4 linked regions of the Homo sapiens genome follow. The protein of the gene in region 2 interacts with the protein of the main gene of each other region in a biochemical or structural test. Each region holds a gene or a part of one and is shown on either strand. Other genes may lie near its edges. The genes, in order: POU2F1, VDR, HR and MED1.

The links.
Region 1: the proteins of VDR (region 2) and POU2F1 form a complex in vitro, tested with the Homo sapiens proteins (one study listed by BioGRID).
Region 3: the proteins of VDR (region 2) and HR form a complex in vitro, tested with the Homo sapiens proteins (2 studies listed by BioGRID and IntAct).
Region 4: the proteins of VDR (region 2) and MED1 form a complex in vitro, tested with the Homo sapiens proteins (5 studies listed by BioGRID).

The regions. Positions count from the first base shown.
Region 1 is NC_000001.11:167,216,678-167,224,101, reverse strand, and holds the start of POU2F1 (POU domain, class 2, transcription factor 1), read right to left. Parts: upstream 3,217-7,424; 5' UTR 3,205-3,216; coding exon 3,144-3,204; intron 1-3,143. UniProt on the Homo sapiens protein: Transcription factor that binds to the octamer motif (5'-ATTTGCAT-3') and activates the promoters of the genes for some small nuclear RNAs (snRNA) and of genes such as those for histone H2B and immunoglobulins.
Region 2 is NC_000012.12:47,852,824-47,860,056, forward strand, and holds part of VDR (vitamin D3 receptor), read right to left. Parts: intron 4,866-7,233; coding exon 4,681-4,865; intron 4,427-4,680; coding exon 4,306-4,426; intron 2,979-4,305; coding exon 2,807-2,978; intron 1-2,806.
Region 3 is NC_000008.11:22,113,778-22,121,010, forward strand, and holds the end of HR (lysine-specific demethylase hairless), read right to left. Parts: intron 7,182-7,233; coding exon 6,939-7,181; intron 6,731-6,938; coding exon 6,565-6,730; intron 6,397-6,564; coding exon 6,327-6,396; intron 6,114-6,326; coding exon 5,983-6,113; intron 5,507-5,982; coding exon 5,387-5,506; intron 5,289-5,386; coding exon 5,173-5,288; intron 3,263-5,172; coding exon 3,098-3,262; intron 2,652-3,097; coding exon 2,523-2,651; intron 1,986-2,522; coding exon 1,923-1,985; 3' UTR 642-1,922; downstream 1-641. UniProt on the Homo sapiens protein: Histone demethylase that specifically demethylates both mono- and dimethylated 'Lys-9' of histone H3. May act as a transcription regulator controlling hair biology (via targeting of collagens), neural activity, and cell cycle.
Region 4 is NC_000017.11:39,420,110-39,427,342, forward strand, and holds part of MED1 (mediator of RNA polymerase II transcription subunit 1), read right to left. Parts: intron 4,630-7,233; coding exon 4,518-4,629; intron 3,713-4,517; coding exon 3,588-3,712; intron 3,337-3,587; coding exon 3,218-3,336; intron 1-3,217. UniProt on the Homo sapiens protein: Component of the Mediator complex, a coactivator involved in the regulated transcription of nearly all RNA polymerase II-dependent genes.

The sequences.
Region 1 (7,424 bases), on a different chromosome or scaffold from region 2:
CAAAAACTGTAACAGCGAAATTTTGCTTGTAAAATCCAATGTACATTTTATCATTTTGTATAAAATATCTACGGCCTCAGTAGTGATTAAATTGCAGCTATAAAGGAAATTGACCCGAAATAAATGGTTTCCCTATGAGAAGGCTTCACTGCTACACTTCACCTCAGGACAATAAATCAAATTAACTGCACCTTGTCCTCTGTCCAATGACATCATCAGTTTGACCACATCTTGGGAATCGGGTGCAAAAACATATGCTATTTAAGGCATGAAATTATATTGCTGCTTTTTGTCCATCTGACCTCATACTTCAGGTCTCTGAAGCAGTCATTCACCTGAAGGTTCTCTTAAAAGCTACAGATTTTTTTTTTTCCTGCTGCATTCAGGGCCTGCCTACTGTGAGTGAAAGAAGAAAAATGGTGAGAACTGGTTATCTGAAATTAGCTTGCGTTTAATCCATCAAACCTAGAATTTTGTTACAAATTAAACTGAAGACCAAAGTCCCACAAAATACATAGCTAGCCACTCACCAAAATGTCTTAACATAATTTCAAAGGTTTAACACATTAGTGTTAAACCCCACTCCTCTAATACTTCCCTCGACTACGCAGCGGTAAACATCCACCAGTGACAGGCAACACTAGTCACACTCACACTCACACACACCCCTACACAAAATAAAAATGTTAAAAGAAAATTTTACCACAGGAAAGACCAAAAATCAAAATTACTGTTTCCTCTAAACAGTAAAAGTTAATCTGCCTCTCACAAGCCAACTGTCCTAAGTCTAGATAAAACATAACATCAATTCTGACAACTTAAAGAGGAGGGGCGGGTGTGCTGGGAGGAGAATAAGTTCCAAGATCAGGGTAAACGCAATGCCTATGTTTATTCTTCTCTTTTCACTCATTTAATCATGACACAAATACTCAAAGAAAACATAACCCCATTTTTTTGTTTTCAGTAGTGCTACAATTAAAATAAGCAAGTCTATGACAATGATAGCACAAAATTAACGTCAGCTCCATTTTAAATTAGAATGAAGATGTCAGAAAGGTAGCACCACACCAAGAAATTATGAAACTGTTGTTAATTGGAATTTCTAATATTTAGCTACTCCACAACTCCTAGAGGAAAAAAAAAGTGTCAGTTTTACAAATACTACAGACCTTTACAAAGCCTTAAAGTATTTAACATGGGGGTGGGGAGCAACCGGGGTACCCATCCCCAAAACAAAGTGATTTGGATTAAACCAAAATAGATTTCATAGGCTCTGAAAATAAAATACAGGACAGATTTTTCCCCCTAGGCCCAATACTACTGCAAAGTATAAGAAAGTCTTTTTAAGAGAAAACAAACCATCACAGAGTTGATACTTAGCTAGGACCTGTTTTAATGCTAGTAAAGCCCCAAGAGAGTTTGTTTTGCCCGCAGAGGAGGGGAAAGTGTGTGGAAGTTGGTGGAGGTAGTCATTTTGGTTATTAGTAAATAAATCAAGCAGCAGAGAACATGAGGCCTAGGCAACTGCTAGAGAAGCCAAGGCCCAGCTTCCCCCCTCTCTTCCCAGCACGGCCTGGGTTTGATCTCAGAGCCCTGCGGATTGCCAAGGAAAAAAAAAATCATATCGAACCACAAAAGCACATGGGGCGAATGTAAAATATAAACACGGCGTTGGGCTGTGAGTGGCTGTTATTAAAGGTCTGAATTACTAAACATGAGAGGCGGGGAAAGCCAGGCGGCCATTTCAATAATATAAACCTCCCCGAATTAGACATTATTCAAATGAGAAGAGGTTCAGCTAAGCAGAGAGTAAAGACGACCCAGCACACAGCGAGAAAACACCGCCACAGAAGAAGGGAGGGGGATCCCCGTCCCTCCCCACCGACTCCCAACAGGAGAGAGGAAATCGAGAATACGATCAACTTGTCAGGCCAGCCCATTCTGGGGCAGGAGGGCAGCCCTTTACATCCAAGTTCTCGGGAGGCCTCTGGGCGCTTCTGGGGCCTCGGAGCGAGAGGCCCCGGAGGGCCACCCGCCCCGTGCGTCCCGGTCAGGCGCAGGGGGTGGGGGGAACGGAGGGGGGGCAGCGGGGAGGGGCAAAGGGAGACGGAGGTCAGACCACGCCAGGCACCTCCAGCCCAACTCGCCCGCGAAGCCCCGGCCGACAACGCAAAGGGGCTGCCGACCGCCGGCCGGGGGCGCGCGGGCCGCCCCAGAGGACATCCCCTCGGAAGGAACTTGCCCCAAGGACTCCTTCCAATCCAGTCCACCCCCCAGGGGGGGCACGCAGACCCCTGCGCGGGTTCCCCACCCCCGCCGCCCCAGGCCACCTCGCAGCGCCCACGACCGCTCACCCCTACCCACCTAGAGAGCAGGCCTGGCTTGGGTCAGGCCACCACATTGGGGACCAGTGGGGCGAGGCCGAAGTGCCTGGGGCCGTGACCCCCGGGCTCAGCCCCGCGCGGGGCGCGGGCAGGGAGCTCTCCCCGCGCGCACCCCCGGTTGCCCTGAGGGCCGCCCCCCAAGGCGGGCAGCGCCCCCCCGCCCGGGCCCGCTCCCGGGGGAAGACGCGTGCGGGTGTCCGGCCGCCGGGGTCCGCTCCGGCCCCGCCGCCTCCCCGGCATTGTGCTCGCCGCCGCCTCCATCCCCCTTCACGCCCCCCACCCCGCGCCCGCCCGGCCCCGGCCGCCCGCCCGCGCCCTACTGCGCCCCGCCGGCCCAGCAGCTATGAATATGTAAAATGTCTTTATTGTCCTCTCCCTCTGCCCCGGCCCCGCCGCCCCGCCGCGGACCCGCTCGGGTTCGGGCACGGCGGCGAGGAGGCGGCAGCGGCGGCCGGCAGAGGAGGAGGGCCGGTGCCGACGGGCAGACGGCGAGCGGCGGCGGGGTGGGCCGGGTGCAGGAGGAGGGCAGTGGATCGCAGCCCCCTTTGCCCCTTGTCTTCCCCCTCCGCCTGGCCGCTCCGAGCCTCTTTCCCCCTCCGCTCAGCGCCCGGCGGGGGCTCAATGCTCCCCGGCCCCCCATCTCCCCGCCGTTAATTATAATAATCCTGAGTACTAATAAATTATGCTAAGTCGCGGGGGGGGGCAGCGGGAGCCGGGGTTGAGTATGAATATGAATATGTAAAATGCTGTAATGATTACCTGCTGCTGCTGCCGCCGCGGCTGAACTCTCATCTTGACTCGCTGCTCCTCCGTCCGCCATTTTGAATATTTTAACCAAAATCGCCCGGTCGATAAACCCTCCCTCGCTCTGGCTCCCCTCCCCCCTCCCGCCCTGCTTGCCTCCTCCCTCCTCTCCGCCCCCTCCCGCTCCTTCCTCTCCCCGGGCGCGCGCCAGGGGGCGCGCGAGGCCGGCTCTGTTCGCCCCGGCCCCCTCAGAAGAGCTCCACCCCCTTCCCGCGCTCTGCGCACGCGCCTTCGGGGCGCTGTGGCCCTTCGGTAGCTAAAGCAGCGCCCTCAATCAGCCAGGCACCCTGTGGCTTCATTTTTCGTCTCGGCTCTGCGCATGCGCGCCTTTCTCCTGCCGCCAGAAGTGTCGCCGGCGCATGCGCTCCCTCTAGCTCAGAACCAGATTATATAGTATCCCGGGCGCCTGTGTCTTCTTACACTTCTCCCTTTTCCTCCCGCCTTGCTTCCCTCCTGGCTTCGCTCCGGTCTCCCCCAGTGGCCTGTGGCATTGTAAAAGCACGGCAAGGAGCGCAGCGGCCAGAAACGTGGGGGCGCGTGGAAGGGCAGTGAGCGGCCCGCGTGCCCTGTGCTCCGCACTTTCTTCAGGGTTTCCGCGCAGTTGAAACATTGGCAACAATGGATAAGCCGCTCCTCGCTAGGTAATTTCCGGCCCTCTGGGCAGGTAGGGGCGGAAACGACCGCCACGGGAGCCGGGCATGAGGCACCTGCTGAGCCACACGCGGGCCTCCCGCTTTAAATTTGAATCCGAGCTAATCCCCGCCCCCGGCTCTGCTAGTGCAGGAGACCCGGCCCCGGCAAACGCGAGGGGGAGTGTCGTGTGATTGTTTTAATTAGCCCTAAATCTCTTCTGCTCTACTTGCTTCTAACGCCAGGCTGGCTTCCTCGGGAGCTAGGCGTCTTATTAAGTCGCTAATTTCCGCCCTACCCTTCCTTTCTGCCTTCACGCCCCTCTAACGCCGCTCCCCCCAATCGAAACAGACCCCATATTCTGAGGCTTCCCCCCGCGCCTTCTTCCCGCCTTGGAACACCTTTTAAAACCTAGCAGTAAGCTGATGACTAATAAAAATGTCGAAATCGTAACTTCATCGTGAATTTTATTTTGCTGTGTTTCTCAGAGTAAATATGGTATTGGGGAAAGGTTTCGCGTTGCACATATCTTTCTTGGTAACTAGACATAATGTTGCTGAGTTTTCTTTATCTTAAATGGCGAAATTCCCTGGACAAAGTCCCAGGTCTAATTATTTTACGAATTTTTAAAGCCCTATTTTTGTTTGTTTGTTTGTTTTTTAAGAATAGAAAGGTGTATTTCATGGTAAGCAAAGTTTAAAAAAAATCAGCTCTAGTTAATCTGTCTTGAGAGATATGACTGAAGTTTAAATTGGGTAGAACTGCTGGTTCTACAATTAAAAACAAAACTGATTTCCAAGTGAGTGCAATTATTTTAATGGGTAAAGTTTTAATCATCAGTCCTAGAATGCTCGTTGGACTCCTTTAACTGTGCAAGTACAGTTAAAGCTATTGTCAGTGACAGGCAACGATTTGGGGGTGGGATTGATTTGTTCGTGGTAATTAAGCCTTAGGGTGTGTGCATGACTGTTTGAACCAAATAATTAGACCGCCCTGTAATCTAATTATTTAGAGCCACGCCAACCAGCACACTTAAGGAAATGAAATATTTAACTAGTTAATCTGGAAATATGGCCTAAGTTATTTTCACCAGCATTACTGTAAGGGAAGTCTCAGAATTGACAACCTTATTGGAAATAGTTAAGTACATGCCCCTGCTCTGGGGACCACAAATTTGAAATCATCTCCATTAAGAAAAAGAGCTCAAATACCCTCATTTAATTTCCTGTCTTCTATTTAATCCTAGTTTTGCTCTTTGGTTCAAAAAGTATATTAATATGACCTTCGGAAAGTCATTGAAGCTAGTGTATGTGTTATGCATTCTTTACTGTTTCACTTCTATAAAAGGAAATTTTCATGGAAAGGATTTTTATTTAAGGAAGGATAGTTCTGTGAGAACAAAAATAGCTTAAAATAGACTGTATCAAAGTTTCATTTTCCTCCTAATGAGTTATTTATGTTTCCAGCTGTCCCCAGTGCCTAGCACAATGCCTGGGCATAGTAGGTGTTCATATTTGTTGAAGAAAAATAGTGAATATACAGTTATGTATGTTAGGATTATTTGTAAAATTAATGTCATTTATTCAATAAAAAATTGTAAACATCTGCATTCTCATGAACTTACTAGGTGCTAAAGATAGGAAAATGTGTAAGACACTACTTTAACCTCAGCAAACTCACATATATCACTTTAAAAAAGAAAAAAAAAAACCCTTACAATACCCTGGGAGGTAGAAACTCTTTATCCCAGTTATCTAGGATGGGAAGATTGAGGCATAGAGATGTCAAGTAACTTGCCCAGTGTCACACCACTATTAAGTGTTAGAGCTAAAATTCAAACACAGGCAAGGGACCGTACTCTTAACCACTACACTAAGTTATTTGCTTTGGGTCAGGCAAAATCTTGGAGGTACATGTATTAGACTGTTCGTGCATTGCTATAAAGAAATACCTGACACTTGGTAACTTACAAGAAAAGAGGTTTAATTGACTCATGGGTCTGTAGGCTATACAGGAAGCATAGCACTGGGAAGGACTATGTTTCTGGGGAAGACTCTGGAAGCTTACAGTCGTGGTGAAGGCCAAGCAGGAGCTTGTACATCACACAGGAGAACAGGAGCAAGAGAAAGGGTAGGGGGGCAGGTGCCACACACTTTTACAAGAACTCACTGTCATGAGGACAGCACCAAGGCGATGGTGCTAAACCATTCATGAGAAATCTACCCCAATGATCCAGACACCTCTGTATTAGTCTGTTCTTCCACTGCTATAAAGAAATACCTGAGATGGGGTAATTTACAAAGAGGTGTAATTAGCTCACAGTTCCACAAGCTGTGAGATACACACTTAACCAGATCTCATGAGAACTCACTGTCACCAGAACAGCAAGGGGGAAATCCACCCCCATGATCCAATCACCTCCCTCCAGGCCCCACAACCAAAATTGGGGATTATAATTTGACATGAGATTTGGTGGGGTCACAGATTAAACCATATGGGTACATATAGTTCAGTATAGGAAGGGAACAACACATTAACAAACAATGTCCTTGTATATAATGTCATAATAAAAATGTAGGCCAGGTGCAGTAGTTGCACCTAAAATCCTACCACTTTGGAAGACTGAGGCAGGAGGATTGCTTGACACCAGGAGTTCAAGACCAACCTGGGCAACACAGTCCCTGTCTCTACAAAAAGCCAAAAGTTAAGGTGGGTGTGGTGGCACACACCTATGGTCCCAGCTCCTTAGCTCCTTGGGAGGCTGAGGTGAGGGATGAGGACTGCTTGAGGGCAGGAGTTCGAGGCTGCAGTGAGCTATGATGGTGCCACTGCACTCCTACCTGGGTGACAGAGTGAGACTCTGTCTCAAAAAAATGATTTTAATAAATAAATACAAATAAAAAGGTATATGTGGATGAGAACTTAACTTCACTTAGAAACAAATAGCAACTATTATAATTGCCAAAAAGTAGAAACAATTCAAATGTTTTTCATATGAATGAATAAAACATTCATACCATGGAATACTACTCAGCAATTGAAAAGAATGAACTACTATCATATACAACAACTTCAATGAATCTCAAAGGCATTATGCTGACTGAAAGAGGCCAGTCTCAAAAGGTTATATACCATGTACTATATGGTTCCATCTGTATGACATTAATGAGATAACAAAACTATAGTGATGGAAAACAGATCAGTGTTTGCCAGGAGATAGTTACAGGGGAAGATGTGATTATAAGGGATAGGCACAAGGGAAGTTTGGAGGAGGGGGGTGGTTAATGGAGTTGTTCTGTATCCTGAGTATGGTAGTGGTAACACAAATCTGTACATATAGTAAAATACACACATGGCACAGTAGTGCAGGGGAGTGGTGGTTACTTCTGCCTAGCTGTTACCATTACTGGATGAATGTTCCTTAGTAACAGCCCTAAAGTGTCAACAGGAATGTGTTCCATCTGTCTTGCTAAAGTGCAACACACAGGCTCCCTTGCAGCTAGGTGTGGCCATGTGTGACAAAATTTTGACTATTGAATTATAAAGAGTTAATTTGGTGGGATTTCTGGGAATGCTTTTTCAAGAAGCAAGTTTTGGGAGGCCGAG
Region 2 (7,233 bases):
GCCATACACCAATATATGGCACCTCATAATCTGTTTCCATCCAGAGCCGGCAATGTTAACTCATTTTCCAGCTCCCCATATTCCAGCACTGAATCTGAGCATTAGTATCTAGGAAGCATTTTGCCCCTTCTGCCGTAAATACAGCTATTGCTGCTACTTGAAAGACAATAACATTGCTTGAGATTGATTTACTTCTCTTTCTCAACCATATTGTTTATGTATTTTATGGCAATATACCAAATGAACTTTGGGGAAGAATGAAGATACAAATATACATAAATATAGCCATTTCCCAACACATCTATTAAATGTGTCAATACTCTATTGTTTTAAGAATATTGGCCGGCAGTGGCTCATGCCTGTAATCCCAGCACTTTGGGAGGCCGAGACAGGCGGATCACGAGGTCAGGAGATCAAGACCATCCTGGCTAACACGGTGAAACCCTGTCTCTACTAAAAATACAAAAAAATTAGCCGGGCGTAGTGGCGGGCGCCTGTCATCCCAGCTACTCGGGAGACTGAGGCAGGAGAGTGGCGTGAACCCGGGAGGCGGAGCTTGCAGTGAGCCGAGATCATGCCACTGCACTCCAGCCTAGGCGACAGAGCGAGACTCTGCCTCAATTAAAAAAAAAAAAAAAAAGAATATTGGCCGGGCGTGGTGGTTCATGCCTGTAATCCCAGCACTTTGGGAAGCTGAGGCTGGCAGATCACCTGAGGTCAGTAGTTCAAGACCAGCCTGGCCAAGATGGTGAAACCCCAACTCTACTACTAAAAATACAAAACTAGCCAGGCGTGGTGGTGCGTGCCTGTAATTTCTGCTACTCAGGAGGCTGAGGCAGGAGAATTGCTTGAACCCAGGAGGCAGAGGTTGCAGTAAGTTGAGATCGCGTCATTGTACTCCGGCCTGGGCAACAAGAGGGAAACTCTGTCTCAAAAAAAATACAAAAAATTAGCCAGGCATGGTGGCACGCTCCTGTAGTTCCAGCTACTTGGGAGGCTGAAGCAGGAGAATTGCTTGAACCTGGAAGGCGGAGGTTGCAGTGAGCTGAGATCGCGCCATTGCACTCCAGCCTAGGTGAAAAGAGCGAAACCGTCTCAAAAAAGAAAAAAAAAATTAACACTGCATGAGTATTTAAATATAAGTATTATATACAGTACTAGTGTTAAAACAATGAAACATAGGAATAAATGAATGAAATTTATATGAATGAATTGATAAAGGAGGATCCCTTCTCCAGTAGAACTCCTTATACTTATATATTTTGGCAAAAATGTATCAGTATGGTTAGGAAATGGTCTTTATTTTTTTCTTTTTTGAGACAGGGTCTTGCTCTGTTGCCCAGGCTGGAGTGCAGTGGTGAAATCATGGATCACTGTAGCCTTGACCTCCTGGGCTCAAGTGATTCTCCTGCCTCAGCCTCCCTAGTAGGTGGGACTACAGGCATGTGCAACCACACCTGGCTAATTTATAATTTTTTTTTTTTGTAGAGAAGAGGTCTCACTATGTTGATCAGGCTGGTCTGGAACTCCTGGGCTGAAGCAATCCTCCTACCTCAGTCTCTCAAAGTGTTGGGATAGGCATGTGCCACTGTGCCCAGCCAGGAAATGGTCTTTAAATGTACATTTTGGTGAAGGATGCCAGGGTCATATATGCCAGTAAACCTATCTCTCTCCAGGATTCCTAGACTGTTTCACAAGTCTACATGGCCAAGCCCTTCTCTCTATCACTTCATTCTGCTCTCAGAGTTGGGGTGTGGAGGAATCATATCGTTGAATTTAAAGAGATAATATGAGGATTCCAGTCAAGCCAGCTGGAGTGAACACAGCAGTGAGCTGGGAGTTCTAGGCCTGGCTCTGACATGCTGGCTCCAACACCTGGAAGGGATCCTGGCTGGCCATTGGACCTCTCTGGGCTTCCACACCATCATCCAGAAAGTGCGGGGATGGACTAGCTCTCCAGTGCTGGCCTGCAGAGTAACGCAAGACAGGCTGCACTTTCTAAATACAGATTTCTGGGCCTACGCCAGAGATTCTGATTTCGCAGGTCTAGGGTAGGGTCTGAATCTCTATTTTAAAGAAGCAATGGAGGCTGGCTGCTGTGGCTCATGCCCGTAATCCCAGCACTTTGGGAGGCTGAGGTGGGTGGATCACTTGAGGTCAGGAGTTTGAGACAAGCCTGGCCAACATGGCGAAACTCCGTCTCTACTAAAAATAAAAAAATTAGGGCAGGGCGCGATGGCTCATGCCTGTAATCCCAGCACTTTGGGAGACCAAGGTGGTTGGATCACGAGGTCAGGTGATCGAGAGCAGCCTGGCCAACGTGGTGAAACCCCGTCTCTACTAAAATTATAAAAATTAGCCGGGCTTGGTGGCCCACACCTGTAATCCCAGCTACTTAGGAGGCTGAGGCAGGAGAATCACTTGAACCCGGGAGGCGGAGGTTATAGTGAGCCAAGATAGTGCCACTGCACTCCAGCCTGGGCATCAGAGCGAGAATCTGTCTGGAAAAAAAATAAAAATAAATAAATAAATAAATAAATAAATAAATTAGCCGGGCGTGGTGTCTGGTGCCTGTAATCCCAGCTACTTGGGAGGTTGAGGCAGGAGAATCGCTTGAACCTAGGAGGCGGAGGTTGCAGTGAGCCGAGATCGCGCCACTGCACTCCAGCCTGCGTGACAGAGCAAGATGCCGTTTAAAAAAATAAAAAATAAAAAAAAGAAGTGGTGGATGAGTGATCTCCAACCCTTCTTGTAGCTCAGTCTAGGACTCTGACTCTGTTCCCCAGAGATTGCAGAAGTTTCTTACCTGAATCCTGGTATCATCTTAGCAAAGCCAATGACCTTTTGGATGCTGTAACTGACCAGGTCAGCCAGGTGGGGCAGCATGGAGAGCTGGGACAGCTCTAGGGTCACAGAAGGGTCATCTGAATCTTCTTCACTCAGATCCAGATTGGAGAAGCTGGACGAGTCCATCATGTCTGGGAGAGATGAGGGAAGAGAAGGAGCTATTTAAGGATACTTGGACCAGGCCCCCTCCTGCCAGACCCTGCAAAAACCTGGTGTGCCCTGGCAGCAGAGCCAGCTGGGAATCCCACAGTGACTCCACAGGTCACCCTTCAGCCCCAGGCTTCCCTCTGGGACTCTCTCTGCCTCTTTCAGCAGCATAAGGCAGTAAAATCAAAGAGCCAGAGACACTCAGAGCAATGAGACTTCCTCAAGCAGACTGTGTGCTGTTCCTATGGATCTCAATCAAGAAAGAATTTGGGACCCATCAAGTCATGGAAAAAAATGTTCAACCTTGCTAATGGTCAAAGAACTGCAGTGTAGAACATCTATAATTTTCACCTACAAACCAGAAACAAAAATGTTTAAATATTGATGCCAGTATTTATAAAGATGCAGGAAATTAGGCAATGCCTATGAGGGCTGGGGTGCTAAAGGAGGTGCACATTACTGAAGGTACTCTAGAAAGCTATTTGACATTAGTCAAATAATTGTGTGTACTCTTTGACCAGTAGTCACACTTCCTGGAATTCATTGTAAGGGAAAATTTCCGATAAGTGTAAATATTTGGCTACAAGTATACTGTTTTCTTATTAAAATGCTGAGAAATAATCCAGATATCCAATGGTAGGGGATTAGGTACATTATTGTATTCCAGAATACTATGCAGCCCTTAAAAATTATATTCTGGATGCGTACTAACTGGTATGGAAAAACAATGCCATATAAAAAAAAGCAAGTCATCAGATTGTATACAGCACAATTTCTTTTCTAAATATACATATGTGTTTTTTTTAAAAAAAAAAAAAAAAAGAAAGGAAGGAAAGCATGATGCCTCCCAGACTCTCAGCTGAGCTGGAGGGGACAGGTCCTCCAGGGCCAGAGTGGTCCCCAGAGCTCAAGTGGAAGGTGGACCTCAATAGGACCAACACGTTCACCTTCCCACTCCAAATTTCACCTTCTGAAGGGCCCAGGATTAAAATATCACGTAAAGGAAGCAGGTCACCTCCACGGAGGGGGCCATGGGCTGAAGCCTGGCTTAGAGGAAACAGCATGGGCCCGGGAGGCTGATGCTACACAGCTGGAATCCCAGCTTGGCCTCTTCCCCAGTGTGGGCCCTTGGGTAAGTCACCCCTTTCTGTAACAGAGGGGCTGTTGTGAAGACGCTGCATAGCGCACAGTATTTATGTAAGTTTCCATTAGGGAGCCTTCCACCTCCTTCCATCCAGCAGCCCCAGGGCAGGTGCGGTGGACTCCTCGCCCCCGCTCCCTTACTCTATGGAGGACTGAAGTCCTGCTTACCTGAAGAGGTGATACAGTGATCTGAGCAGGAGGAGGAGGAGTCCCCAGAGAAGCTGGGAGTGTGTCTGGAGTTGGGCCTGGAAGGATGGCTCCCTCCACCATCATTCACACGAACTGGAGGCTGGAAGGGAAAGATGGGGTCTCAGACCCACATTTTGGGGTTGCCTTCCTACCTTGGCCCTGATCTCTGATAGGAATGGCTTTGAGGAAGGTCTACAGGAAGGCGAAGCCTCCCAGTGCCAGGGGCAGAGCAGCCTCCGTCCCTACCCCAGTTCTGTTCAGGATGTCCCCTGCCCTCTGTCCCTACTCCCTGGGCCCTGGCTCCACTAGTGCTTCTCCTCTGGACCGGCTCATCCTCCCAGCAGGCAGACATACCCGGAACTGGCAGAAGTCGGAGTAGGTGGGGTCGTAGGTCTTATGGTGGGCGTCCAGCAGTATGGCAATGATGCGCTGCTGCTCCTCAGACAGCTTGGGCCGCAGACTGTCCTTCAAGGCCTCCTCCTCCTTCCGCTTCAGGATCATCTCCCGCTTCCTCTGCACTTCCTCATCTGTCAGAATGACTGTGGGGTGGGAAGGGGAGTCAGGAGGGCTGGCCAGCAGCTCCTCCAGGAAACCTTCCTCCTGCGGTTGGGGGTAAAGGTCCAAGATAGGAGGGGCTTTAACACTCGGGGCTCCCTCGGGGGTCCTCCTGCCACGGAGACTCCCACTCCACTGTGTGAAGAAAAATTGGGTTTGCTATGGTGAAAAGGAAGGCACATGCAAGAAGAAGAAAAAGAGGATTTGAGAGGGGGGATGATCTGGGCTTTAGGGAGTCGGGGTTCTCAAGAACAAGTTGTGGGACCTTGGGCAAACTCTCTGGGCTTTTGTTCTTTTGTTTGTAAAATGAGAGATTTGGACCATGTAAGTTCTTCCAAGGTTCCTTTCTTGTACCTTCCTCCATAAAGTGTGTGTGTGTGTGTCTGTGTGTGTTGACATGCAGGTGGGGGAAGTAATAATACCTGCCTCAAAGGATCAACTGATTTGAGAACTGGATGCATGCCTGGCCCAGAGCAGATGCTCACTAAATGTTAGTTCTCTTCTCTTCCCTACCCTGATGTTCCATGATCCTGAAGAAGATATCAGGGTGAAGAGAGGATGCCAGAGCTCTCATAGCGCTGGAAGTGAGATGTGGAGAGGACTCCTCTATGTGGCTGTCTCCACATCCAGGTTTCCAGACATGGGACTGTGGAATATAGAAAGACTAGACCTCTTTGGTTCTCTGCAAAACCACCCCTCCTCCAGCATGTACAGCCTTGACATTTCTGTCCATGGAAGTTTTCAAGTCCTCTTGAAGGCCCCAAAGGGTGAGGCCTTGCAGCTCTAATCTTAGAAGTTCTCTCCAGCCACTAATCAGGGTGTGGGGCCATAGAGAGCCCCACCACCACCTGCAGGCTTCTGCCTGCCTCCCTGTGCTGGGGCAGCTGTGGGGGTGGAGGGGATGCTGGGAGCAAAGGTGCCTGGCACGGCGGCTGGGCAAACAGACCTCCTGGCTGTGGCTTGCTGAGTGCTGACGGCAGGAGTGGGCACCAGGGCCTTTGGCCTGTAGCTACTTGCTTGGTGCTGCTGCTGCCAGGGCATCTGCCCACAGAACTGGGGAGTTTCACAAGAGCAGAGAAAGGAACCAGAAGCCCAGGGTGGGTGAGTTCCAGGCTTTGAGAAAGGTCCATTGGCCCAGGCCCTCAGGTAGGGGGAGGACGAGAGAAGTTGCTGTGGGGTGAGGAAGAGCCTATGCTGGGAGGGAGTGGACAGCCAATGCCACAGGCATGGCAGGAAAGCGAGCGCTACTGCAAGAGATGGTGCTTCCCTCCACAGGGAGCCTGGGAGTAGACCACACCCAGGTGACTGACTCACCTGCCCAAACAGCTGCCAACTCTCCTCCCACAGTGGGTGTCTGCACAGACCCTACCAGGTCAGGCAGGGTGGGAGAGGAAGGGGCAGGGAGCATCCAGGGAAGGCAATGGGGGTAAGCCCTCGCTTGGGGAGCCCAAGATTAGGTGTCTTGTCTTTCCTGCTCACCTGGGGACCAGAGTTAGGGAGACCTGTTTCTGCCAGCCACACCATGGTGTCTACAGGCACGTAGCTCAGCCTGACTGGACTTTGCTAACTTTCCAGTGATTCTGTGATGCCATTCTCCTGCCCAGATACTTTTCTCGGCCCCTACTGATGACCACGTCCAAACTAAAGTTGGCCTCTTCCTAACTTTCAGACTTCATGTCTTAGTGCTTCTGGACACAGCCTCTGTTCTGGGCATGCTGGCATTGCTGCTGGCCTGGGAACATGACCTGCTCATGCTCGCCCCTGCATTTCCAGTTGTGCTAGGTGCCCGTCCAGCTGGGTTTTCTCTCCCCCAAACCTGTATGAGTTCTACCAGTTCTTCAGTGCCTACATCATAGCCATCTTTTTCCATGAAGCATTTCTTGATTGCCCTGATCTGCATCAAGCCTTGTTTTTTTCTGCTGAGCCTCATTTCCTATGCCTGCTACATATTTAGTCTTTCCCACACACATTGACACCCAATTATCTTCTGCTCTGTAAGACTCATGGTTAGCACAGTTTTCAATTCATTACCTATAGACGGAGCCCAAGAAGTTCAAGGTCTCTTTCTCTAGATTACAAGTTACTTAAGGGCAGGGTCCATGTCTTACAATTCTTTCTTTTCTCTCCCTTCCTTTCCCTTCCTTCCTTCCTTCCTTCCTTCTTTCCTTCCTTCCTTCCTTCCTTCCTTCCTTCCTTCCTTCCTTCCTTCCTTCTTTCTTTTTCTTTCTTTCTTTCTTTCTTTCTTTCTTTCTTTCTTTCTTTCTTTCTTTCTTTCTTTCACAGACTCTCGCTCTATTATCCAGGCTGGAGTGCAGTGGCACCACCTCGGCTCACTGCAACCTCCACCTCCCG
Region 3 (7,233 bases), on a different chromosome or scaffold from region 2:
CGATTCTTCTGCCTCAGCCTCCCGTGTAGCTGGGATTACAGGCGCCTGCCACCATGCCCAGCTAATTTTTTTTTTTTTTTTTTTTTTTTTTTTTGGTATTTTAGTAGAGACAGGGTTTCACCATATTGGCCAGGCTGGTCTTGAACTCCTGACCTCAAGTGATCCACCCGCCTCTGCCTCCCCAAGTGCTAGGATTACAGGCGTGAACCACGTCGCCTGGCCAGATGAGATAAATTAAATGAAAACAAAAGCAAAGTAAACTGTAGAGTTCTCAGTTTTTTCTTTTCTTTTCTCCTCTTTATCCCATAAAAAAATGAAAATAACTGAGTTCTCCAAACAATGAAAGAAGCCCTACATTTTTTTTTTTAAATAAAGCATAGTTTTGTAAATCATGGCAAAGCCACTTAATGGAATATAAGCAGTCATTTAAAATGAAGATTAGGTAGCAACACAGAAAATGATTATGATATGGTGTCGAAAGAAAGAAACCAAGGACAAAACACAGCAATCCAGCTATGTGCACAGCAAATCCTTGGGGAAAGCACTGGGAGGGAATATGCCAAAATACTCATAGTAGTTGGAGGTGTGTAATGATGGGCTAGAAGGTGACTTTCTTATTTTCTGAATGTTCTGAAAGTATATTACCCTTATAATAAAAAACTTTATTTAATAAAAAAAATTCCCCAAACCACAGCAGGAACAATTAGGTATGACAAGAGTGGGAGTGTTTTTCTTTGTAGGGCTGAGATACACAAAGGAAGCGGGAGAGGGCGGAGCGCCACCAGGAGGCTGCGGGCGTGGAGCGGGGACAAGGAGGGGTCGGCTGTCTGAAGCAGTCAGGCTCAGTCCCAGGGTGGCTGGGCCTGGCGTCGGCCATGGCCACTGCCACCAAGGGCAGACAGGCGGGGCAAGGGCTCTTCTGGGCCATACTTCTGGATCTCCAGGTCAGGGTAGACGGGAGAGATGGGGCGGACTGGAGCTTGCTGGGTGGAGTAGGGCTCGGGAGTCTCTGCACAGGGAGGTCACCTCGTGGCTGTGCCCCAGGACTCTGCCTTGCCTGCTCTTGCACTCAGGAGCATCTTTGGGGGACAGCCCCCCACCCCACCCAAAGTCTCCTCAGTGGGAGGCAAGGCCCCAGGCCCCAGACGAAGAGCAGGCAGTGGTGTCCTGTCCCTTGGGCCCCAGCTCCGGGCTGCCCTACTCCATTTGTCTCTAAGGCAGATTTCCATGTCCCCCTCCCTCCCTGGACCATGTGGCCTGCAGGGGCAGGGCCAACCACACTGGCAGCAGTCACAAAACAACAGACTTTAATGGAAATCATGAAGGAGGGAAGCGGGCGGACCGGGAAGGGGCTGAGTGACATCGCCCATGCCGCTCCCTCCGCCAAGCCTGAGCAGCTCCTGATGCCACCCTCTCCTCACACTCCCCAGATCTTTTGGCAGGAGGGCAGAAGGTTGGAGGCCCCTTGTTCAGCATGCCTGCAGTGAGCCCAGTGAGGATGCGGTGGTAGAAACGGAGCTGGGGCAGTAGAGTGGGCTCAGCGGGAGTGAGCAGCAGGAGGAGGTGTTGTTTAAGCCAGAATGATTCCCAAGTTTCCCCAAGGAAGGGCTGTTTGTCTCCTGGGTCTCGGAGGAGTGGGGATTGGAGGAAGTCAATTGCCCCCAGTGCGGGCCTGGTACCATGAAAAGGGGCACAGGGTGGGGGAGATGCCAGCCTGAGAAGGACAGGTGTGAGCTTGGTGGCACTGTGGTTGTTGGCTTAAGGGGGAGGGGAACAGAGTGCCCTGCTTGTGCCCAGAGTGGTGCTTGTGGGGTTGACCAGAAATCCCCAAGTCCCCTAGCGCCATCCCCTGCTGAAGTTGTGCCTGGGCTGAGCACCTGGTCTACCTGTCCCCACCCCGATCCCAGACACCTAGCATCCCTCTATTTGGCCTCCTGTAATGTCCCCACGGCCACCTTCACTGCTTGGAACACAGCCCAGTCCATCTAGGAAAAAGAGAGAGGACAAAGCATTTTCAACTACATTCCTGGGCCCACCCGCTGTCCCCCACCCTACTTAAAAGGAATACTCTGGCCAGATGCGGTGGCTCACACCTGTAATCCCAGCACTTTGGGAGGCCAAGGTAGGTGGATCATTTGAGGTCAGGAGTTCAAGACCGGTCTGGCCAACATGGTGAAACCCCACGTCTACTAAAAATCCCAAAAAAATTTAACCAGGCATGGTGGTGGGCGCCTGTAGTCCCAGCTACTTGGGAGGCTGAGGCAGGAGAATCACTTGAACCCAGGAGGCGGAGGTTGCAGGGAGCTGAGATAGTGCCACTGCACTCCAGCCTAGGTGACAGAACAAGACTCCATCTCAAAAAACAAAATGAAACAAACTAAACAAAAGGAATACTCTGCCCCTGCACAGGGTGGCTGCCTGCTTGGCACAGGGTGGGATCTGCTATGTCCACTGCAGCTGTGGCACAGGGAGGTGGGAGGCTTGGGTAGCACACCCAGCCTGCTGGCCCACATCCCACTCACCTGGGCATAAAGCAGGTGGCAGTCAGGGGGAAGGCTGGGTCCCTGGTGGCAGAGCTGAGCAGAGAGGGCAGAGGTCTCAGGGGAGAGGAAGTGCTGAGTGACGCTGACTGTGCTCACCAGGCCCTGCACCTGTGTCGGGGGGACATGGACAGTGAGGCTCAAGATCACACATCCTCTCCCTGTCCCCCTGGTCCCTGAGGTTCGCTTCCTCTAATGACAACCACCCCCGACCCCTGGCTCTCAGAGAGCAGATTCCTGGATGCACCACTGGACACCTCAAAGCCTGTGGCCAAAACCGGGACTCAGAACTGCTGGAGAGACCCTAAAGTCTCCCTGCGAGCCCCCTGACATCAGCATGCCCAGGAGACCAGGAGTGGACTCTGGCGCCAGTCCCAGTTGGGCTCAGTGACTTCAAGGCCTCTTGGCTCCCCCGTTATCTCTTCCCCACAGCAGCGTGCGGCTCCCTGCCCTGCCCGGCTCTTGGGTATTGAGGGGATGTTGGATGCCTGCGGCCTTGATTGGGTCGCTTCTGCCATCCTGATCTCCCCGCAGAGCCCCTGCCCGCTGGGAAGCACCTGGTGGGGAGCCCCTGCAGGCACCAGCACGGCCTCTCCGGGGGCCTGGAGCAGGGTCCAGCAGCTCACGCCCCACTCCTCCCGCAGGCGCCGCCGCAGCCCTGCATCCAGGTAGCAGCTGCCTGGGGCGCCAGGCTCCAGGGCGCCTGCCCCGGCCGGGCACACCTCAAAGAAGAGAAGGGGGAATGAGCGAGATGGGGAGGGAAGGGCAGGGCTGCAGGAGGATGGGGCATGGACTTTCCAGAGGCCAGGGGTGGAGAAAAGAGCCGAAGGGTCAAGTCTTGAAGGGCAGGCAGGGAGGGCATGGCTGAGTTTGTTTGGGGCTGGGGCAGCTCAGGTTGGCAGAACACACATTTGGCTGGAAGGAGCTTAGAAGGAAGGGATTCAAGGCCCTACAGTTGGGCAGACTGAATCCCTGCTTTTCTGGGGCTGGAGGCCTTTAACAGCCTCTGTGACCTCGGCCCCTCTCCTCCCTCTCTCAATGGTACCCCTTTCTGCAAATCCGAGGGAGACGTCCTGCATAATCCCAGTTCATAAACTGTCTACCAGGACTTCTTCATCTGAAGTCTTTGGAATGGCCAGAATTGTGTGCTAAGTGGTGGATGAGGAGAGAGCTGTGTGTCCCTGGGGAGACAACTCAAAGTGTTCATCAGGGTCTCCCTAAGATTCCGGATGCAGAAAAGGGAAGGACCACTGCGAGGCTCTGAGTGCCAGCAGGTGAACAGGCTTTCCGGCCAGGCTGAGGCCTCTGCAGCAGCCACAGCTACGGGGACCTCACAAGCCTAACCAGAGCAGGGAGCTCTCTGGGCAGGCAGGGACTCGCAGAGGACAGAGGTGCCCAGGGAACATGTGCAAAGGGGACGCCAGCATCGTGCTCCAACCCACCACCAGCCCAATCCACCCCCTTTGGCAAGGACCTCAGCCATTGCCCCTGGGCTTAGGGCTGCAAGATGGGGCGTGGGGGAAGGGAAGGCTGGTGAAGCAAATTGGACCCTAGGGGAGTCCCAGCTGGGTGCCAAGATTCCTTTGCCCTTGGAGATTCAGCTCCATCCTGGAGCTGAGCAGTGTTTCCCAGGCCACCCAGGGAGACTGTGCCCCTCAGCCCTGCCCCGTGAGTCACTGGGTTGGGCCGTAGTGACTGCCCACGGCCAGCCACACCCAGCCCAGAAGAGGCCATCTGTGTGTGGAGGTGTGCTTGTCTGCTCCCCTCTGCGTGTCCCAGCATCTGTGTGTGTATCTACACATGTGTGTACCTGTGGGCAGGAGGGGTGCACACCATGCTGGCCTCTGCACGTCTCCGTGTGTGTGTGTGCCTTGGCGAGGGGTGACACTAGGTGGAAGTCTTTTCCCCAGGATAATGAGGGCTCAGCTGGACTTGGGAACCACGGGGCTGCCCTCGCCTTACCCCTGGACTCTCTCCTCCCCTGCGCCTCAAGCTTCTTGCCTCCAGCCCACCCCATCACCTTCCCCTTCCCTGGCTCCTCACCTGACCCATCTCTCCCTCCACTTCCCTCAGCCCCCTTCCTTGCTAGCCCCTCCGGGAGCATCTCCTCCAGGCAGTCTCCCCTAACAAGATGCAAATACCAAAAGGTGGGCAGCCGGACGGAGTCTCAGAAGGCAGAGGAGGCTGCCTGCCTCCAGGAAGAGCATAGAGTAGTGACCTGGGGCCATGACAGACAGAAGCTCAGATCCCAGCCCTGCCACTGAGCTTCGGTGTTCTCATCTGCCAATGGGAAAGGAGCAGTGCCTGCCTCATGGGGCGGGGGGCTGAGACGGGTAACAGATAATTGTGCCTAAGGCCCTAGCACCACGTCCAGCCTCGGGCAGCTGGTGCTCTCATTTCATCATCGGGTCCAGGCTCTCCTGCCGCAGCCCCTGCCCCTTCTCTGAGCCCCACGGCAGAACTCCGGGTCCCCTCTGCCTTCTCTGCACCTGTCTGTGCGAGTTGGGTCTGTGCAGCTCACCTGAGGGCGTGGGGCAGGGAGCGAGCACATGGGACCGCACACTGGGGTGGGACTGGACGAGCTTCTAGGGCTGGGCGGGGGGAAGGGGAGGGCTCCCGGCTGCCTCCTCACCATCTGGAGAAAGCGGCGGATGCGCTGGGCGTCCTGTGCCCGGAACACGTGCCACACAGTGCTGACCTGGCTGCCCGGAGACCAGAGCCCCTCCCCGTCCAGGCCTGAAAGGAAGTCTGAGGAGGAAAGAGCGCTCAGGCAGGCCCAGGGCTGGTGGCGACAAACACTCACCTCTGTAGCTTGTCCCCGCTCCTGCCTCTGGCCGAGGACCTACCTTTCTGTGCCCGGTGCCAGGCAGGCAGTGGTGTGTCGGCATGCACCAGGATGCTGACCAGGTCGGCCACCTCCACACAGAGGTTCTTGGTCCCCAGGTGTCCCCGGTGCGGGCTCACACCTGCATGGCAATAGAGAAAGAACAGTTAGAAATGGAATCAGAGAGCCAGGCGCGGTTGCTCACGCCTGTAATCCTGGCACTTTGGGAGGCCCAGGCGGGCAGATCACCTGAGGTCAGGAGTTTGAGACCAGCCTCAACATGGAGAAACCCCCTCTCTACTAAAAATAGAAAAAATTAGCCGGGCGTGGTGGTGCATGCCTGTAATCCCAGCTACTCGGGAGGCTGAGGCAGGAGAATTGCTTGAACCTGGGAGGCGGAGGTTGCGGTGAGCCGAGATAGTGCCATTGCACTCCAGCCTGGGCAACAAGAGCAAAACTCCGTCTCAACAACAACAAAAAAAAAAAAAAAGAAAGAAAGAAATGGAATCAGAGAAGCGCTTCAGGCCCCAGGGCCTTGGCACAGACGCTCGTGTGCCCCGAGATGACAGGCAGACAGGCATGGGAGTAGAGACTGGGCAGGAGTGGAGGGACACTCACCATAGGCTGCCCAGAGCTGGGGCTCCAGTGGACGCAGGGCAAGGCCCGGTGGGAGGTAGGAAGCCAGGTTGAGTTTTCCATGGAGGGCGCAGTACTCCGGAAGTGGCAGACTGGCAGCTAGGTTCTCCACCCTGTCAGGGTAGGGGGTCATGCCCAGCAGGCCCAACCTGGGCACCAGAGACCCCATCAAAGCCCCACCACCACCGGGGTAACTCCCAGAGGGCAAACATGAGAGTACCAGGGACCACGGGGTGGGGGTTGGGGGCAGAGGAGGAGGGGAGGGCTGAACCAGGCGGGGCCTGCGGTGGCGGGGAGGTAGGGCTGGCCCTTGGTGACATACACACCTGCTGGTGTCCTCATCCCCCAAAGCTCGGTGCAGCAGGAGGACAGAGCCCTCGTCTGACTTTGGGCGAACTACAGGAGGAGACAGAACGGCCATTGGCCTCCTCAGCCCTGAAGCCCCTGCCCCGGCGGCAGCAACACCTGCTTCCAGCCCCTCGGGGTCACCCTGGGACTCCTCTGCCACCCGATCCCTAGGGCTTGGGCTCCCAGCTCCCTCTCCCCTGTGTTGGGGACACTTACGCTCAGGCCAGGAGAAGCCCTCCCAGAATGTTGTGCTGCCCAGGCTGCTGGGCTGGGGAGGTCCGAGGGGGCTCAGCGCCTGCACCTGGCCTCCAAGTGCCCCAAGAGCTTCTGTCCCCCACAGGTTGCCCTGCAATGTCCTTTGGATCCCTGACACCAACACAGGCTGTGGTGGGAAAGGAAGGAGGCCATGAGGAGAATGGCCAGGGTGCCCGCCATGGCCAGGCAAGGGCGTGTTGTAAGGGCAGTAGAACAGCTCGGGGACAGCCCTCCTGCTCCCCCTGAGCCACTGGGTCTGTCTGGGCCTAGGGACCAAGGCCCCGAGGGGCAGGTGGGGTGGCCAGGGCCGGGAGGGGAGGGGAGGGGTGCCTCACCTGGCCCTGCCTCCAGTGCTCCTGGAAGAGGTGGAAGCCACGCCGAGGGCAAGGCTGGGGCTCCTGCAGCCACAGCAAAGCCCCTGGGGGAGGCAGCCGGGGCCGCACTGGAGAGAGGGGCAGGCCCAGGCCCTTGCGCAGACCCGGGCCAGCTCGAAGCCCCGGCCCCAGGGCTTTCTCCTGGATCTTCCGTTCCACCACCTGTGCGATAATGCTGTCCAGGATGTTGGTGATGCGGTCATCCTGCAGAGAGGGGCACAGGGGCTTAGGACCCACTGGGCCCCACAGGGAGGGC
Region 4 (7,233 bases), on a different chromosome or scaffold from region 2:
ATGCTAGTGATTTCCTAACCTAGCTAACATAAAAACTACCTCAGAAATCTGTATTAAAGAGGTTCCTAAACCATAAATGCAAAATCTCTTTTTTTTTTTTTTTTTTTTGAGACAGAGTCTCCCTCTGTTGCCCAGGCTGGAGTGCAGTGGTGCGATCTCGGCTCACTGCAAGCTCCGCCTCCCGAGTTCATGCCATTCTCCTGCCTCAGCCTCCTGAGTAGCTGCGACTATAGGCACCCGCCACCACGCCCGGCTAATTTTTTTTGTATTTTTAGTAGAGACAGTGTTTCACTGTGTTAGCCAGGATTGTCTCCATCTCCTGACTTCGTGATCCACCCACCTGGGCCTCCCAAAGTGCTGGGATTACAGGAATAAACAACCACGCCCGGCTGCAAATTCTCTATTTTTAATAAAACACCTATATAATAATAATGCAGCCAGAATTTGGTAACCACTACTTTAGTCTATTGTAAAAGATTCAGATAAATACAAGTCCAGATGAGGTTTTGGAACGTTCCCTTATTATTATTATTATTACTTTTGAGACAGGGTTTCACTCCCATTACCCAGGATGGAGTACAATTGTGCAATCTTGGCTCATTGCAATCTCTACCTCCCAGGATGAAGCCCCTCAGCTTCCCGAGCAGCTGAGACTACAGGCATGAACAACCACATGTGCCTATTTTTTTTTTTTTTTTTTTTTGAGACAGAGTCTTGCTCTTGTAGCTCAGGCTGGAGTGCAGTGGCACGATCTCTGCTCGCTGCAAGCTCCACCTCCCGGGTTCACGCCATTCTCCTGCCTCAGCCTCCCAAGTAGCTGGGACTACAGGCGCCCGCCACCACACCCAGCTAATTTTTTGTGTTTTTTAGTAGTGACGGGGTTTCACCATGTTGGCCAGGATGGTCTCGATCTCCTGACCTCATGATCTGCCCGCCTCGGCCTCCCAAAGTGCTAGGATTACAGGCGTGAGCCACCGCTCCCGGCCACATCAGCCTAATTTTTGTATTTTTTTTTTGTAGAGACAGGATTTTGCCGGAGGATGAGGCAGAAGAATCGCTTGAACCTGGGAGGCAGAGGTTGCAGTCAGCCGAGATCGTGCCACTGCACTCCAGCCTGGGCACCAAGAGCAAAAAAAAAAAAAAGAAAAAAGAAAAGAAAAGGACAGGCAAGGTGGCTTGCGCCTGTAATCCCAGCACTTTGGGAGGCGGAGTAGGGTGGATCTCAAGGTCAAGAGATAAAGACCAATCTGGCCAACATGGTAAAACCCCGTCTCTACTAAAAATACAAAAATTATCTGGGCATGGTGGTGCACACCTACAGTCCCAGCTACTCAGGAGGCTGAGGCAGGAGAATCACTTGAACCTGGGAGGCGGAGGTTGCAGTGAGCCGAGATCGCGCCACTGCACTCCAGCCTGGCAACAGAGCTAGCTAGACTCCATCTCAAAAAATAAAAAAATAAAAAAGAGAGGATTTTGCCACGTTGCCCAGGCTGGTATTGAACTCCTGAGCTCAAGTGATCTGCCTTGCCTTGGCCTCCCAAAGTGCTGGGATTACAGGTGTGAGTCACTGTGCCCAGCCTCTTAATTACTGCTTCCAGCATTTTCCTCTCTGTAAGTACTTTCAGGATCTTTCCAGATTCTAAGCTCATGGCACTTGAAAGAATTAAACAGTAAGAATTTATAACACCTAATTATGATATTCTAAAAGTTCAAAATACCATTAAGAGTCTGTCACCCCGCCAGGCAAGGTGGCTCACGCCTGCAATCCTAGCACTTTGGGAGGCCGAGGCGGGCGGATCACGAGGTCAGGAGATCGAGACCATCCTGGCTAACATGGTGAAATCCCGTCTCTACTAAAAATACAAAAAATTAGCCAGGCATGGTGGCAGGCGCCTGTAGTCCCAGCTACTCAGGAGGCTGAGGCAGGAGAATGGCATGAACCCGGGAGGTGGAGTTTGCAGTGAGCTGAGATCTCACCACTGCACTCCAGCCTGGGCGACACAGCAAGACTCCGTCTCAAAAAAAAAAAAAAAAGTCTATCACCCAAAATTTCTTTTTCTTTTTTATTTTTTTGAGACGGAGTCTTGCTCTGTTGCCAGGCTGAAGCGCAGTGGTGCGATCTTGGCTCACTGCAACCTTCGTCTCCCGGGTTCAAGCAATTCTCCTGCCTCAGCCTCCCGAGTAGCTGGGACTACAGGTGCATGACACCACACCCAGCTAATTTTTGTATTTTTTTAGTAGAGATGGGGTTTCACCCTGTTGGCCAGGATGCTCTCGATCTCTTGACCTCGTGATCCACCTGCCTCGGCCTCCCAAAGTGCTGCTGGGATTAGACATGTGAAACACCACGCCCAGCCTCGTTTTTTTTTTTTTTTTTTTTTTTTGAGACGGAATTTCGCTCTTGTTGCCCAGGCTGGAGTGCAGTGGCGCAATCTTGGCTCACTGCAACCTCTGCCTCCCGGGTTAAGTGATTCTCCTGCCTCAGCCTCCCAAGTAGCTGGGATTACAGGCATGTTCCACCACACCCAGCTAATTTTTATATTTTTAGTAGAGACGGGGTTTCACCATGTTATCCAGGCTGGTCTCAAACTCCTGATCTCTAGTGACCACCCGCCTTGGCCTCCCAAATTCCTGGGATTACAGGTGTGAGCCACTGCACCTGGCCAATCACCCAAAATTTCAACAAAGAACTGTACATTGTTGTTTCCTAATGGAAGCTCATGCCCTTTTACTTCAATACATTTCCGAGATTTCTTTTTTTTTTTTTTTTTTTTGAGACAGAGTCTCGCTCTGTCACCCAGGCTGGAGCACAATGGCACAATCTTGTCTCACTGCAACCTCTGCCTCCCAGATTCAAGCCATTCTCCTCCCTCAGCCTCCCGAGTAGCTGGGATTACAGGCACCCGCCACCACACACGGCTAATTTTTTGTATTTTTAGTAGAGACAGGGTTTCCCTATGTTGGCCAGGCTGGTCTCGAACTCCTGACCTCACGATCCGCCTGCCTTGGCCTCCTAAAGTGCGGGGATTACAGGTGTGAGCCACCGCGCCCAGCCCATTTCTGAGATTTCTGTAATTTCCTGCCTTACTAAAGAAATAGGACATGATCCAGCAGTCTTGAAGAAACTTATCTGACCTCAATAATGCTATAAAGGAAGATTATGATCTTGGGTCCAAACATAACCTACAACATTCTAGCTCCCTAGGGCTTTACTTACAGCATAAAATCTCATGTTGTGATTCAAAGGTATGGGGTCAGGGTCCTTTGATAGCTCAAACTGAGTGATCAGTTCATACAGGGGTGCATAAGTTGGTTGAGTTTCAAACAATGGAATTCCTGGAAAAACAAGAATCAATATAATGATCATGTTAAGATGAAAACACTGACAGCTCAGTTTCCCCTTGATATCTACATTCATTCACCCAAAAGAGTACTTACTAAGCATTTACTAGTACAAAGCACTATAACATCTTTACCAGTAATACTTCAATGAGGCATGTAAGACTGAAAGACGTCATGATAACCTGACTTTGAAGTTTCTTTTTCACATTTATAACAAGTACTAGATCCTGATGCTCAAAACTCACCTGTGCAGTTCTGCAGTTTCTGAACAAATGCTCTAGATACTGGGATTGGCTGGGGAAATTTCAAGAAGAAACAGGCAGGAAGATCAACACTGTTGGCACTGGTGATTGAGGAGAAGGAAGGGGTCCTTCAAAAAAAAGAGGGTGGAAGGGTTGGATTCTGACTTGATATAAAAATGAAAAACCCAAACACCTTTTTTTTTTTTGAGACAGATTTTCCCTCTTAATGCCCAGGCTAGAGTGCAATGGCGTGATCTTGGCTCACTGCAACCTCTGCCTCCCGGGTTCAAGGGATTCTCCTATCTCAGCTTCGTGAGTAGCTGGGACTACAGGTGCCCGCCACCACGCCCGGCTAATTTTTGTATTGTTAGTAGAGATGGGGTTTCACCATGTTGGCCAGGCTGGTCTTGAACTCCTGACCTCAGGTGTTCCACTTGCCTCAGCCTCCCAAAGTGCTGGGATTACAGGCGTGAGCCACCATGCCTGGCCACAAACACCTATTCTTAAACATGTATGTATCACACAGACACATAAGTACAAACTCTCAAAAGCTCACTCTGTGAAACTTCCTACCCCCAATTCCCAGACATGCTATTGGTTAACACTGTAGAATTTAATCAAACATTTATCCTGAGGCATGTTCTCCAGTTATTACTCCAATGTAACTAATGAACGTAAGATAAAAGGGGGCACTCATTAAGCCAGAGGAATTAGCACAGTTCTCTTCTTTCCCTTTCAGTGCAGAGAATGTGTTCTACGAGCCGACTTTGGAGAGGAACACTCAGATATCAAACAAAAGAGAAACCAATGAATGGATAAAACAAAAGGCCAACCTCTAGAAATTCAAGTGGGGTAACAGCCAGGTTAAAACTTGTTACATACTGCGCTTTGAGAAAAATTGACTTTGCTACTCTAAAATTATATTTAACTTACCATTTATTGTCAACTGGATGTGACCCCATAATTAATGGTGCAATTGGGAGTTTGTACACAGCAGATGTTCCTTCAATTGTCACTGATGCATTCATGCCCAAAGATCGAGAAACTGGGGATAGGAAAGAAAAAGGGTATTCCTCAAAGTAATACAAATGATGGGAATCACAGTATGTTTTAAGAGGTTAATTTTTGCAATATTTGTCAGCTATAATTTATCAGATGCTGTTATTCCCTTATTTATTTATTTATGTATTTATTTATTTATTTTGAGACAGAGTCTTGCTCTGTCACCCAGGCTGGAGTGCAGTGGCGCAATCTCAGCTCACTGCAAGCTCCACCTCCTGGGTTCACACCATTCTCCTGCCTCAGCCACCCAAGTAGCTGGAACTACAGGCGCCCATCACCATGCCCGGCTAATTTTTTGTATTTTTAGTAGAGATGGGGTTTCACCATGTTGGTCAGGATGGTCTCGATCTCTTGACTTCATGATCCGCCCATCTTGGCCTCCCGAAGGACTAGGATTACAGGTGGGATTACAGGTGTGAATCACTGCGCCCAGCCTATTTATTTATTTTTTTATTGGAGGCAGAGTCTCACTCTGTCCAGACTGGAATGCAGTGGTGTGATCTCGACTCACTGCAATCTCCACCTCCCAGGTTCAAGAAATTTTCATGCCTCAGCCTCCCACGTACATGGCATTACAGGAATGCACCACCATGCCTGGCTAATTTTTTTGTATGTTTTGTAGAGATGGGGGTTTCATCAGGTTGGCCAGGCTGGTCTCAAACTCCTGGCCTAAAGTTGATCCACCCATCTCAGCCTCCCACAGTGCTGAAATTACAGGCATGAACCACCAGGCACGGCCTGTAGTTCCTATAAAACTTAGAAATCAGGCCAGGTGTGATGGCTCATGCCTGTAATCCCAGCACTTTGGGAGGCTGAGGCGGGTGGATCACAAGGTCAGGGGTTCAAGACCAGCCTGCAGAAGACGGTGAAACCGCATCTCTACTAAAAACACAAAAATTAGCCAGGTGTGGTGACAGGCGCCTGTAATCCCAGCTACTCAGGAGGCTGAGGCAGGAGAATCACTTGAACCTGGGGGGCGGAGGTTGCAGTGAGCCGAAATCGCACCACTGCACTCCAGCCTGGGCGACAGAGTGAGACTCTGTCTGGGGAAAAAAAAAAAAAAAATTAGAAATCCTGGAAGTTACCTTTCTAATCAACCAATAATTTTTGTCAGTAAATAAAACACAAGAAACAATGCAGTCCAAAAACATCATTTTTGAAGGGTTCAGTATCAATATTTACTTATTTTTTCTTCAGAATGCATTTAAGTAGGATCATAATAAAAGGACAGGCTGGTGCACTGGCTCACACCTGTAATCCTAGCACTTTGGGAGGCCAAGGCGGGAGGATGGCTTGAGCCCAGGACTTCGGGGGCTGTAGTGAGCTGTGATCAAATCACTGTACGCCAGCCTGGGCAACACAGTGAGACCTACCCCGTCCCCCATGCCAAATTATAATAACAATAAAGGAGCCTGACGCCAAGGCTCGCACCTGTAATCCTAGCACTTTCGGAGGCCAAGACAGGTGGATCACTTCAGGTAAGGAGTTCAAGACCAGCTTGGCCAACATAGTGAAACCCCATCTCTACTAAAAATACAAGAATTAGCCGGGTGTGGTGGTGCATGCCTGTAGTCCCAGCTACTTGGGAGGCTGAGGCAGGAGAATCACTTGAACCCAGGAGGTGTAGGTTGCAGTGAGCTGAGATCGCACTACTGCACTCCAGCCTGGGTGACAGAGTGAGACTCCATCTTAAATAAATAAATAAACAAACAAACAAACAAACAATAAAGGGATGGAGTCAATGAGTGAAGCTACAAAGGGACCTAAGGAGGTATTAGTCCATTTCACTTTTTTTTGAGACAGAGTTTTGCTCTTGTTGCCCAGGCTGGAGTGCAATGGCACAATCTCGGTTCACTGCAACCTCCGCCTCCCAGGTTCAAGCGATTCTCCTGCCTCAGCTTCCTGAGTAGCTGGGATTACAAGCATGGGCCATCACGCCTGGCTAATTTTGTATTTTTAGTAGAGACAGGGTTTCTCCATGTTGGTCAGGCTGGTCTCGAACTCCTGACCTCAGGTGATTCGCCCACCTCAGCCTCCCAAAGTGCTGGGATTACAGGCATGAGCCACCGCGCCCGGCAGTCTATCTCTCTTTATCTTTTCTTGTATCAAGGGCAAACAGAAAATAATGTCCATTACCATAGTTCTTTAATTTAGAAAACTTCACTTTTTTTTTGATCAGTAACTCACTACGTTGCCCAGGCTGGAGTACCATGACTATTTACATGCACGATCATGGTATGCTACAGTCTCAAACTCCTGGGCTCAAGCAATCCTCCCGCCCAAACCTCCCAAGTAGCTAGGACTACAGGCATAAACTACCAGGCCCATCCTTCTACACTTTTTAAACAATGAGTAAGCTGATTATCTCAGGTCAGATCGTTTATATCTCTTCTTATGAGTTGCTCATTTACTTATTTATTCAAAAGTACTTTTTTTCTTTTTTTGAGATGGAGTCTCGCTCTGTCACCCAGACTGGAGTGCAGTGACGCAATCTTGACTCACTGCAACCTCCTCCTCCCGGGTTCAAGCAATTCTCTTGCCTTAGCCTCCTGAGTAGCTGGGATTACAGGCGCGTACCACCATGCTT